Linked DNA regions of Homo sapiens. The protein of the gene in region 3 purifies or fractionates together with the protein of the main gene of each other region. This does not show direct contact. Each region holds a gene or a part of one and is shown on either strand. Other genes may lie near its edges. The genes, in order: EXOC7, EXOC3 and EXOC2.

The links.
Region 1: the proteins of EXOC2 (region 3) and EXOC7 fractionate together in Homo sapiens (co-fractionation; 4 studies listed by BioGRID, with this or other methods). This does not show direct contact.
Region 2: the proteins of EXOC2 (region 3) and EXOC3 purify together in Homo sapiens (affinity purification with mass spectrometry; 7 studies listed by BioGRID and IntAct, with this or other methods). This does not show direct contact.

What each region holds. Positions count from the first base shown.
Region 1 is NC_000017.11:76,102,139-76,105,885, reverse strand, and holds the start of EXOC7 (exocyst complex component 7), read left to right. Parts: upstream 1-2,098; 5' UTR 2,099-2,193; coding exon 2,194-2,253; intron 2,254-2,314; exon of another isoform or gene 2,315-2,459; coding exon 2,460-2,525; intron 2,526-3,747. UniProt on the Homo sapiens protein: Component of the exocyst complex involved in the docking of exocytic vesicles with fusion sites on the plasma membrane.
Region 2 is NC_000005.10:460,176-463,922, forward strand, and holds part of EXOC3 (exocyst complex component 3), read left to right. Parts: intron 1-1,784; coding exon 1,785-1,895; intron 1,896-1,981; coding exon 1,982-2,132; intron 2,133-3,747. UniProt on the Homo sapiens protein: Component of the exocyst complex involved in the docking of exocytic vesicles with fusion sites on the plasma membrane.
Region 3 is NC_000006.12:691,380-695,126, reverse strand, and holds the start of EXOC2 (exocyst complex component 2), read left to right. Parts: upstream 1-1,987; 5' UTR 1,988-2,108; exon of another isoform or gene 2,109-2,853; intron 2,854-3,747. UniProt on the Homo sapiens protein: Component of the exocyst complex involved in the docking of exocytic vesicles with fusion sites on the plasma membrane.

The DNA.
Region 1 (3,747 bases), on a different chromosome or scaffold from region 3:
TGCCCAGGCTGGAGTGCAATGGCACCATCTCGGCTCACCGCAACCTTTGCCTCCTGGGTTCAAGCAATTCTGCCTCAGCCTCCCGAGTAGCTGGGACTACAGGTGCACACCACCACACCCAGCTAATTTTTGTATTTTTAGTAGAGATGGGGTTTCACTATGTTGGCCAGGCTGGTCTCGAACTCCTGACCTCGTGATCCACCCGCCTCGGCCTCCCAAAGTGCTGGGATTACAGGCATGAGCCACCACACCTGGCCGGAGCAAAATATTTATTATCAGTATTTTTATTAAGCATCTACTATGGGCCAGGAACTGTTTAGAGACTCAGGCCAAGCACGGTGGCTCACACCTGTAATCCCAGCACTTTGGGAGGCCGAGGCGGGCGGATCAACTGAGGTTGGGAGTTCAAGACTAGCCTGACCAACATGGAGAAACCCCATCTCTACTAAAAATACAAAATTAGCCAGGGTGGTGGCCCATGCCTGTAATCCCAGCTACTCGAGAGGCTGAGGCAGGAGAATCGCTTGAACCCGGGAGGCAGAAGTTGCAGTGAGGCGAGATCACGCCATTGCACTCGAGCCTGGGCAACACAGCAAGACTCCGTCTCAAGAAAAAAAAAAGAGAGAGAGAGAGAGACTCAGGTTAAATGCTGGACCAGGCCCTCAAAGGTAGTCCACCTGAGCCCAAAACACCCTCTCTACAGCGGCTAACTAGCCCCGCTACTCTATTCTGTGACATCTAACAGTTTAAACTTTCTCCTACTTAGCCCTTTGGACTACACAAGGACCATGTCAGCGAAATCATCCTGGGTATTTCCTGACACAGGAATCAGCCTTTTATCTCCCCCACCTACAACAGGATTGAAATTGTCCTCTTGCCTGAGGGAAGGCTGCCCATCCCTCTCCAGGCTCTGTGCACCCACTTCCTCCTCCTCCTCCTCTTCGGGTGACTATGGGTGGAGTGAGCGCTTGGGAACCCTAGAGCTTGGGTTCTTCCTTCTCTCCTTCTCTCCTTAGGCCGGGAGCAGGGGCTCACGCCTGTAATCTCAGGACTTTGGAAGGCCAAGGCGGGTGGATCACTTGAGGTCAGGAGTTCGAGACTAGCCTGGGCAACATGGCGAAACCCTGTCTCTACTAATAATACAAAAAAATTAGCCGGGCGTGTTGGCAGCCGCCTGTAATCCCAGCTACTCGGGACGCTGAGGCACGAGAATCACTTGAACCCGGGAGGCAGAGACTGCAATGAGCCAAGATCGTGCCACTTGCACTCCAGCCTGGGCGACAGAGTGAGACTCTCTCTCAAAAGAAAAGAAAGGAAAAAAAAAGCTTGGTGTCCCCCCTGCCCGCCCCAAACCTTCTCATCTACCAGCACATGCCTCCTTGTCTATCTTCCGGGTGTCTGGACACTGAGGCCACAGAAGGACTGAACCAAGCTGGTCGGCCTTGTCCTTTCTCAAGGCTGGGGGCCAGAGGCAGGGTGGGCAGGGACGGGTTAGAGGAAGGAGTAACTCGAGGTTTTGCAGGAGCTGGGTCTGCAACCACAACATCCAGCCCCGCAGGGAAGTTGATCCAGGGGCGCCCCCCACCCCGTCCCCTGGAGCTGCAGTTGGACGCTGGGTCTGGGCCTGGAGCTCCGGAGCAGCCCCGCCAGCCCACAGGATACGTTTTTGCGTAATGCAGGGTGGAAGGCGGAAACAAGTACACAAGCCCCTGGTTCATTACATGGACACACGTTAGGCATCTACTGTGTCACCTGCTCCGTGCGGGGCTTTGTGGGAAACGCAATTGGCCTTGGTGCCTGCCCATAGAATGCGACCTGGGGAAAGGAATTCGTCGCCTTCCCCAGCAGTCTTTATCAAAAGGGTCGGTCTTTCAACGAAAACAGCAAGTGAGCTCTAAGTGTCCTGCCAGCCGCGGGACATAAGGCCGATCGAAAACCTCTGCTGAGGCAAGGAACCCGCGTCGAGGTCCCTTGCAGCATCCGAATACACTTCTCTTCCCAGCCACGCTCAAAATGGCCGTCGGTCCGTTCTTGGGCTCCGCGCAGGCGCACTTCAGCCTGCGATTCCCAACATGGCTCCGCCCAGGCGTCCCGGGGCGGGACCAAGAGCGGAAGTGGGTGTGACGGGGACGGGGGCCCGGTGGGCCCGCGGAGGAAAGATACTGGGGAGTGGGAGCCGCGGGGTTCAGAGCGATGATTCCCCCACAGGAGGCATCCGCTCGACGGCGGGAGATTGAGGACAAGCTGAAGCAGGTGGGCGTGGGCCTGGGGAGGCTGGGGAGGAGGTGAGGGAAAGGGGCCAACAGCGGGGCCTGATTGTCTACTCATGGAGGAGGCAGGGGTGGGAGGGAGCGCACCCAGCGAGGAGATGGGGTTGGGGGCTAGGCCGTGGGGTTGGGACGCAGTGGTCTCCTTTAGCTTCTGGTTTCTGGTGATGTCCTCCCCTTGCCTGCCCCCAGGAGGAGGAGACTCTGTCCTTCATCCGAGACAGCCTGGAGAAGAGCGACCAGCTCACTAAGAACATGGTGAGTCTCCCCGCAGCTGGGGGAGAGGGCAGGCCTCCGGACCCTGGGGGAGAGCCTTGCGACCTGGCGGTTCCGGTTCCTGCGGCCTGGAGTTCTGGAATGGGCAGCGACGGAGGCAGTGTGTGGGTTTATCTAGCAACAGTTTGGCATCTCTCCTGCCTAGCCCCCTCCCCATGTTCCGTACCCTCACTGAGGAGGCTGCACTTCCCACTGGCCTGGACTTGCTGCTTTCTGTCTAAGCTCGCCATTCTTCCTTCTCTCCTTCTGCAAACACTCAGTGAGTCTGACCAGTTGGGCTAGGTACTGGGCATATGTCATTGTCAGTGGACTCTCTGCCCAGGAGGTTGGCACTTTGAGATTCCTGAGGGCAGAGAAGACTCAGCCTTCACTCCAGAGGACTTTAGGGAAAGAAAGAGCTCTAAAGTCAGGCAGATCTGGGATCTAGTCCTTGCCCTTCTGCTTAAATGTGCGGCTCCTGATAGGTAACTGGTGTCAGCGAATTCATCTGCTAAAACAGAGACTGTGCCAGCCTCCCAGTGTGTCTGTGAAGGTCATATGCGCTAATGCATGCGACTGCATCTTGCACAGTGCCTGGTATACAATAGGTGCTCAATAAGTGAGTTTCCTTCTTTATTCCTAGGGGAGACTGGAAAAGCACAAAGTGAGTAAATACAAACTTGTATTTGCATTTAGTCACACAATAATAAAGTCCTAGTCCTTTTCTAAAAATTTTAATTTTTAAATTTTTTTTTTTAGAGGCAGAGTCTGGCTGTGTTGTGCAGGCTAGAGTGCAGTGGCATGACTGTAGCTCACTGCAGTCTCTAACTCCTGGGCTCAGGCAGTCCTCCTGCCTCGGCCTCCTAGCAGCTGGGACTGTAGGCACACACCACCACGCCTTGCTAATTGTGTGTGTGTGTGTGTGTGTGTGTGTGTGTGTGTGTGTCTGTGTGTGTAGACAGGGTCTCACTGTGTTGTCCAGGCTTGTCTTGAACTCCTAGTCTCAAGCTAACCTCCCGCCTCAGCCTCCCAAATTCTGGGTATTACAGGCATGAACCATCACGCCCAGCCTCTAGTCCTTATTCAATGAGTTTCATCCTTAGAGAGGGTTTTGAAGATACAGCAATGCATTTGAGGCTACTCTGTATGAAACTACTTCCAGTCCGGTTTAGGAATGCTTCAGAGAGAACAGAAGTTGAGATTTGGCTTCAAAGGGTGGAAGGGA
Region 2 (3,747 bases), on a different chromosome or scaffold from region 3:
CAAGTGTGTCTTTTGATAGTTGTGAATCAGATTGGACTGCATCGCATGAGGGCTTAGGGTTCCTAGGCCTCTGGTAAGCCGAATAGCCCCTTCCCTCCTTCAGCTGCTGGCTTGTAGATCTCTGTAGAGAGATGTCCCTCAGCCTCCTCCTCAGTCTACTGTCAGCTCCCGAGCCAGATGCTGGCTCTGCAGGCTTGGATCCCACTTATTGGTGAGTGTGCCTTCCACGATGTGGCACATCAGGAGACATGGCGTCCATAGGTCCTGTCCTGGTGGCTTAGGTACTACAGCCACGCCGCCCACTCAGAGTTCCCATTTGCCATCCATCGATAGGGGTAATGCCCAAGTCCCCACTGGCCGCCCATCCACAGGGGTCACAGCTGAGTCCCCACTGGCCCTCTTCCATAGAGGTCTTAGCCGAGTCCCCACTGGCCAAGTCTTAGCCAAGTTCCCATTGGCCCTCTATCCATAGAGGTCTTAGCCAAGTCCCCACTGGCCAAGTCTTAGCCAAGTCCCCATTGGCCTTCTATCCACAGAGGCATGGCCAAATCCCTATTGGCCATCTGTCCATGGGGATCTTGGCCTGAGTTTGTTTCTTTGGAGGTCATTGTCATTTATGAGGTTAGATTCTTCTATAAAGAGACCGTTCCTTGATCACCCTCAGCTTTTTGATGACCTGAACCACACTTTGGACAGAAATGCTAACTTCTTTCCCTTTAATTGCCAGCTTTCAGTGTGCTCCTTTCTTAACATCTCTTAAAAATAGAAACGGTATTTGTTGTATGATTCTTCCACTCCCATAGGTGCTTGAGCATCCCCACAGTAAGTTTAAAAATAGAGCGTGTCACTACCTCTGTTTGTTTTCTTGACATTTCAAGTGTCTGTTTTTAATTGGATGATTTCAGGGACAGTTTCTGAAAGGGACATTTTACCTGACATTTGATGAGGTTCCTAACACTATGAGTTTCTAGGTGAAGTGTATAGTAAATAAAATAAATAAAATAAGATAATGCTTTCCCAATTCCTCACAATCAACTATGTAGTATATTTTTACAATCAGAATGCTGAACCATATTTTTTTTCCTTTTTTCAGTTATTATTTTTTACCAACTCCTCAAAATTTTTATATTTTTTAATTGTTTTTAAGAAACAAGGTCGGTCAGGCACGGTGGCTTACGCCTGTAATCCCAGCACTTTGGGAGGCTGAGGCGGGTGGATCATGAGGTCAGGAGTTCGAGACCAGCCTGGCCAATGTGGTGAAACCCTGTCTCTACTAAAAATACAAAAATTAGCTGGGCATGGTGGGGCACACCTGTAGTCCCACCTGCTCAGGAGGCTGAGGCAGGAGAATCACTTGAACCCAGGAGGTGGAGGTTGCAGTGAGCCAAGGTCTCACCACTGCACTCCAGCCTGGGTGACAGAGCAAGACTCTATCTCAAAAAAAAAAAAAGAGACAAGGTCTGATTAGGTTACCCCGACGGGTAGCTCACTGCAGCGCAGCCAGCAGCCTTTAACTCCTGGGCTCAGGTGGTCTCCCTGCCTCAGCCTCCTAATGAGCCATATTTTAAAGCCTGAGGTGAAGTTATTTTTTGATCCATTTAAAGTAATCAACCTCTCTGTCCTTCCATTAGTCTGGATCGTCTAAAGATTGTTTTATTTTTAGAGGCTCATCCGGTCAGATGTTAGTGATGTGAAATTTCAGGCCAGGCGTGACGTCAGCGTGGCATTTGAAACAGCTCCATGTTGCCCTTAGTGCTGTCTGACCGAAGCCTGTCTGTCCTCAGATATAAAGATGAAGCGCAGCTGTATAAAGAAGAGCACCTGAGGAATCGGCAGCACCCTCACTGCTACGTTCAGTACATGATCGCCATCATCAACAACTGCCAGACCTTCAAGTGAGTGTGGCCGGGCGCTGTGGCGGGGGAGCGGTGGAGGCCGGCCTGCCCAGCCGCTGTGTTGAACCTGAACCCTTTCCTTGCAGGGAATCCATAGTCAGTTTAAAAAGAAAGTATTTAAAGAATGAAGTGGAAGAGGGTGTGTCTCCGAGCCAGCCCAGCATGGACGGGATTTTAGACGCCATCGCGAAGGAGGGCTGCAGCGGTTTGCTGGAGGAGGTCTTCCTGGACCTGGAGGTGGGCCTGGCTCTTTCCTCCTGCCGTTTTCTGGGCCGAAGCCCAGTGCTTCCTCACTGCCCTCTGGGACACAGGCTGTGAACTGTACCGTGCGGATGCCGTCTGGGGAGCCGGGCTGTGCACTTGCATTCCGGTCAGATCGCTTAAAGCGCCTCCGTTTTCGGTGACGCTGCTTCGTATGATGCAGGGTCCTTCTTACGCACAATTCAGTAGATTCACCCTGTAAGTATTAAAGACATCAGACAATTTAGTGGATTACAAAATAGAAACCGATATGTAGGGACCTGTCAAAAAGTCAAATTGAGAGTGCACACACACACACATCCTCACATAGATCAGTTTCGCTTTTGAATATAGGTACACACGCAAAAATCATTAATAAAATGAATTTAATATTGTATCAAAGGCATAACCTACCATGAAATGTAGGGGTTATTTCAGAAACATAAAGATGGCTTAACATTATTTAGAGGTATTGGCAGAAATCAGGATATATTTAAAAAATAAGACCTTGTAGGCCGGGTGTGGTGGCTTACGCCTTTAATCCCAGCACTTTGGGAGGCCAAGGTAGGCGGATCACCTGAGGTTGGGAGTTCGAGACCAGCCTGACCAACATGGAGAAACCCCATCTCTACTCAAAATACAAAATTACCTGGGTGTGGTGGCGCATACCTGTAATCCCAGCTGCTTGGGAGGCTGAGGCAGGAGAATTGCTTGAACCCGGGAGGTGGAGGTTGCAGTGAGCAGAGATCGCGCCATTGCACTCCAGCCTGGGCAACAAGAGCAAACTCCATTTCAAAACAACAACAACAACAAAATAATAAGACCATGGCCATCTGGTGGTCCTGCTGGAAAGGGGTTCCTGGGATGAGGGGTGGGATTGGTTGCTGATTCATCAGTGTCTGGTTGTGCAAGAGAACAGAAATGTGTGTGGAAGTGTCCCCAAAGAGGCAGACACTTGTAACTTTCGCAAATATGACTTAGCAAGAAGAAAATATTTACATTTGAAATTATTTCAAAATTTAAAAAGAATATATAGAAAAATGGGCAAAAGACATGAACGGCCACCTCACATTAAAAGCAACACCAGTGTCCTCATCGTGAAACTAGACGCCCGATCTTATCCTCGAAGCAATGAATGCTCAACAGGACCTGCTGCTCAGCAGGATGGCAGGAGCCGGAGACGTGGATGCTGTTCAGGCTTGTTGAGGGTGTGGGAAAAAGGGGCTGTTTGTATTCTGTGTGGGCCTGAACTGGGTTGGGTTTTTGAGGGCAGCTTGGAAATACAGCCATTGTAGTTTTAATCTGTAACTTTTACTGGAGTTTTAATTTGTACACTTCTATTGGAGTTTTAATTTGTATACTTTTATTGGAGTTTTAATTTGTATACTTTTATTGGTTTTAATGTGTATACTTTTTGACTGAAAAATTCAACTTTAAGGAATTTCATCAGAATTATACAGATTCACTGTTGCATTATTGCAAAATGTGAAAAAAATTTAAATGTCCATCAATAGAGAATTGGGCAAATAAATACGATAAATATATGTAGCCACTAAAGGTAAAATGTATACATGCACAGATATTTCCATCTTTAACATGTCATTTTGGGAAG
Region 3 (3,747 bases):
TGAGCTAGATACAGTGTGCCGATTGGTGTATTTATAATCCCTGGGCTAGACATAAAGGTTCTCCAAGTCCCCACCAGACTCAGGAACCCAGCTGGCTTCACCCAGTGGATCCCGACCGGGGCCGCAGGTGGAGCCGCCTGCCAGTCCCGAGCCATGCGCCCACACTCCTCAGCCCTTGGGTGGTCGATGGGACTGGGGGCCGTGAAGCAGGGGGCAGCGCTCGTCGGGGAGGCTCGGGCGCACGGAAGCCCATGGCGGGGGGGGTTGGCTCAGGCACTGCAGGCTGCAGGTCCCCAGCCCTGCCCCGCGGGAAGGCAGCTAAGGCCCGGGGAGAAATTGAGCACAGCAGCTGCTGGCCCAGGTGCTAAGCCCCTCACTGCCCAGGGCCGGCGGGTTGGCTGGCCGCTCCGAGTGCCGGCCCGCTGAGCCCACGCCCACCCAGAACTCGCGCTGGCCCGCAAGTGCCGCACGCAGCCCGGGTTCCCACCAGCGCCTCTCCCTCCACACCTCCCCACAAGCTGAGGGAGCCGGCTCCGGCCTTGGCCAGCCTAGAAAGGGGCTCCCACAGTGCAGCGGTGGGCTGAAGGGCTCCTCAAGCACAGCCAGAGTGGGTGCCAAGGCCGAGGAGGTGCCCAGAGCGAGCGAGGGCTGTGAGGGCTGCCAGCACGCTGTCACCTCTCAAAACAATGTTTTAGTAGAAGTATATCCCATGCAACATTAGTTTAGTGATAAATATATCTATACTACAAATTACTTGTTGTTTATCTGAAATTAAACTTTACTGGGTATTTGTATTTTTATTGCTAAATCTGCCAACCTAGGTTGTTGAAACTTACTTTTTTCCACTTCACTTAATATTCTTTTCACAGTCCACTCTGACGAGATGTAGCTTCCCCACACTCCTTTGAAACTGCTTTTGTCAAGGATGCCAATGACTGGCATATGCCAAACTCAATTGTCTCTGGAGTCTTGGCCTCACAGTACTTCTGAACATTGGCTATCAATTCCTCCTTCCTGAAACTATTTAGCTTCCAGAATCCGCTACCCCCACTTTCCTGATTGTCCTTCCTCCCTGGCCATAGCCCCTGAACCCGAGCTTCCCCCAACCTAGAGCATCCCCTGACCCTAAGTATCCCCCCAACCCTGAGAACCCCCTGACCCCGAGTATCCCCCGACCTCGAGAACTCCCCGACCCCGAGCATCCCCCCAACCCCCAGCATCCCACGACCCCGGGCATCTCCCCCGATCCTGCGCATCCCCTGACCTGGTATGGCGCCCTGACCCAGTGCAGCCCTCAAACCCCTGCAGCCCCCTGACCCCATGCATCCTCCTGACCTAGGGCTGCCCCTGACTCAATGTTGCCCCCGGACCCCAGTGCCTCCTCCTGACCTGAGGCACGCCCCCCAACCTGGTACAGTCCCCTGATTCCAGTGCATCCTTCTGACCCAGTGCTGCCTCCTAACCTGGTGCATCCTCCTTACCCAGTGTGGCCCCCTGGGGATGCACACTCCAGTGCATCCTCCTGACCTGATGCTTCCTCTGGTCTCGGTGCAGCCCCCCTGACCTGGTGCAGCCCTCTGATTCCATGCATTCTCTTGACCTTGTGCATCCCCCTGTTCCGGAGGGGTCCTCTGACCCGATGCAGGGCCCATCGTTGTGAACTGTGGCCCACAAACGCACTATCATCCCACAGTCTCCCTGAGATGACCCGAGGGCACGGGGATGGATGGTGCACCCGGCCTGCCCCTTGAGCTTGTATCCTTCTTTCCCTCCCTCACCGCTTCCCGCCACCGCAAAGACGCCCAGCAAAAACCTCCTACTCGTGTCCATTCAGGCAGCTGGGTCCCTCGGAACCCAAGGCATTCCAGCGTCCACCGCCCACGGCCCCTGCTGACCTCCAGCACCCGCGCCGGTCTCCTCCCCTCCTCTACCCTCCCCTGAAGGCTCCGCCCATCGAGGACTCGGCGCTCGACTGCCAGGCGGATCTACACGCTCGGCGCTCGCGGCGGGCGGAAGTGAGGTGCCGGCGGCTGGCGGCCGCGGAGTCTTCGGCGAGACCTACCGGGCCCTGTCTGTGCCGGCCGTGAGCTGCGGCAGGACGGCTGGAGGTATGTGTGGGAGGCTGGAGGGCCTGGCCGAAGGCCAGCGGGACATGGACGTCAGCTGCACGGAGGTGGCCGCCTGCGGCGTCCGTCCAGGCCTCAGCGGTGAAGGGACAGCCGCGCCCACTGGCGCCGTCGGTCACCTGCGGGGCCCCGCGACCCCCCGCGGTTCCCAGCCCCGCAGCCCCCATCCCCGCCGTCAGCCGCCTGCTGGGCTCCGCGCCCACCCCCGCCAGTTCGCACCCCCGCGGTCCCCACCTGCGCCGGTGAGGGGCGTGGGCTGCAGAGGGCTGACTCCAGGCCCCGCCCGCTGGAGCTGGCCCCAGACTGCGCCGCTTCGCCCTTGCGCAGTTGCCACTCCGTGAGATTTGAGAATTTCTCCGGAAAAGTGAACGCGAGGCGGGTGTTACCTGTCTGCCTAGGCGTGCATCCCGCTCTGGCTGTCCTGAGCGCTTAAAAGGCGCCTGCCGCTGTTGTCAGCGTTTGCGTGCACGTACTTGATCCTCGCGCGGGTGTATGTACGCTGCCGTGTGACCCATTTTACGGATAGGGGAGCGGCGGCTCAGAGTGCTTGAGCAAAGAGCCTGAGGTCCTGTTGTAGCTGCCATTGAGACCTTGCGCGCCGGCTCCAGGTCCGCACACCAGCAGCCTGGAAGCCTGGTGATGCGTAACCCTGTATCCCAAGATTGTTAAGAAAACACTTTAGTAATTCCGAGAAATAGTTCTTGAAAGAACTCGTCTTTGAATGGAAGTAAGTTATTTTTAATCTGCCAAAGGTCAACATACTAATAAGTCTGAGAAATTTTAAGTCTGATGCCTTTATGAATCTGTGAGTAAACTTACAAGGAACACTTAAAAAATATTTTTTCTAAGTTAGCCACACTTTAATTAAATCTTTTTGTGTGCACTATGCAATATTGAAAAGTTACTTCTGAGCTTATGTGGATCTGTCTTCTAATGCATAATAATGTTTTGTTTATGAATGTTAGTATGTACTGGCCCATGCTTTGTGTAACTGACTCCTTTAATGACAAATCAACTGAAAGCCAGAATCTTCTCAAAGATGATTTTTTTGTGCTAAAAGTTGGCGATTCCCAGAGTAGTAATAGAAAGAGGGTGATGTGTGCTTAGTACTTACATGTTCACTTGTTTGTCTAAGTAGAAACTTAATAAATTAAAGCAGAGAAGCAGAGTTCCCCCAGTGTGACTTGGACCAACTCTTGGAAGTTTTAGAAAGTGATCTTTTTTTCTTGTCAAGTATTTAATTTCCTGTATTGAATGCCATTTTGAACTACAGTTGACCCTTGAACAACACTGGGGTTAGGGGTGCCCACGCAGTCAAAAATTTCCATGTAACTTTTGACTTTCCCAGGACTTTACTAATAGCCTACTGTTGACCAGAAGCCTTACTGATACATAAACAGTTGACTTACATGTATTTTGTATGTTATACGTATTATATACTGTATTCTTAAAGTAAGCTGAGAGAGGAAAATGTTAAAATCACAACAAATGTATTTACTCTTCTTTAAATGAAAGTGGAGAATCATGAAGGTTATTATCCCCATAGTCTGCATGAGTAGATTGTGGAGGAGGAAGAAGAGGAGGGATTTTCTCAGGAATGGCAGAGATGGAAGAGATGGAG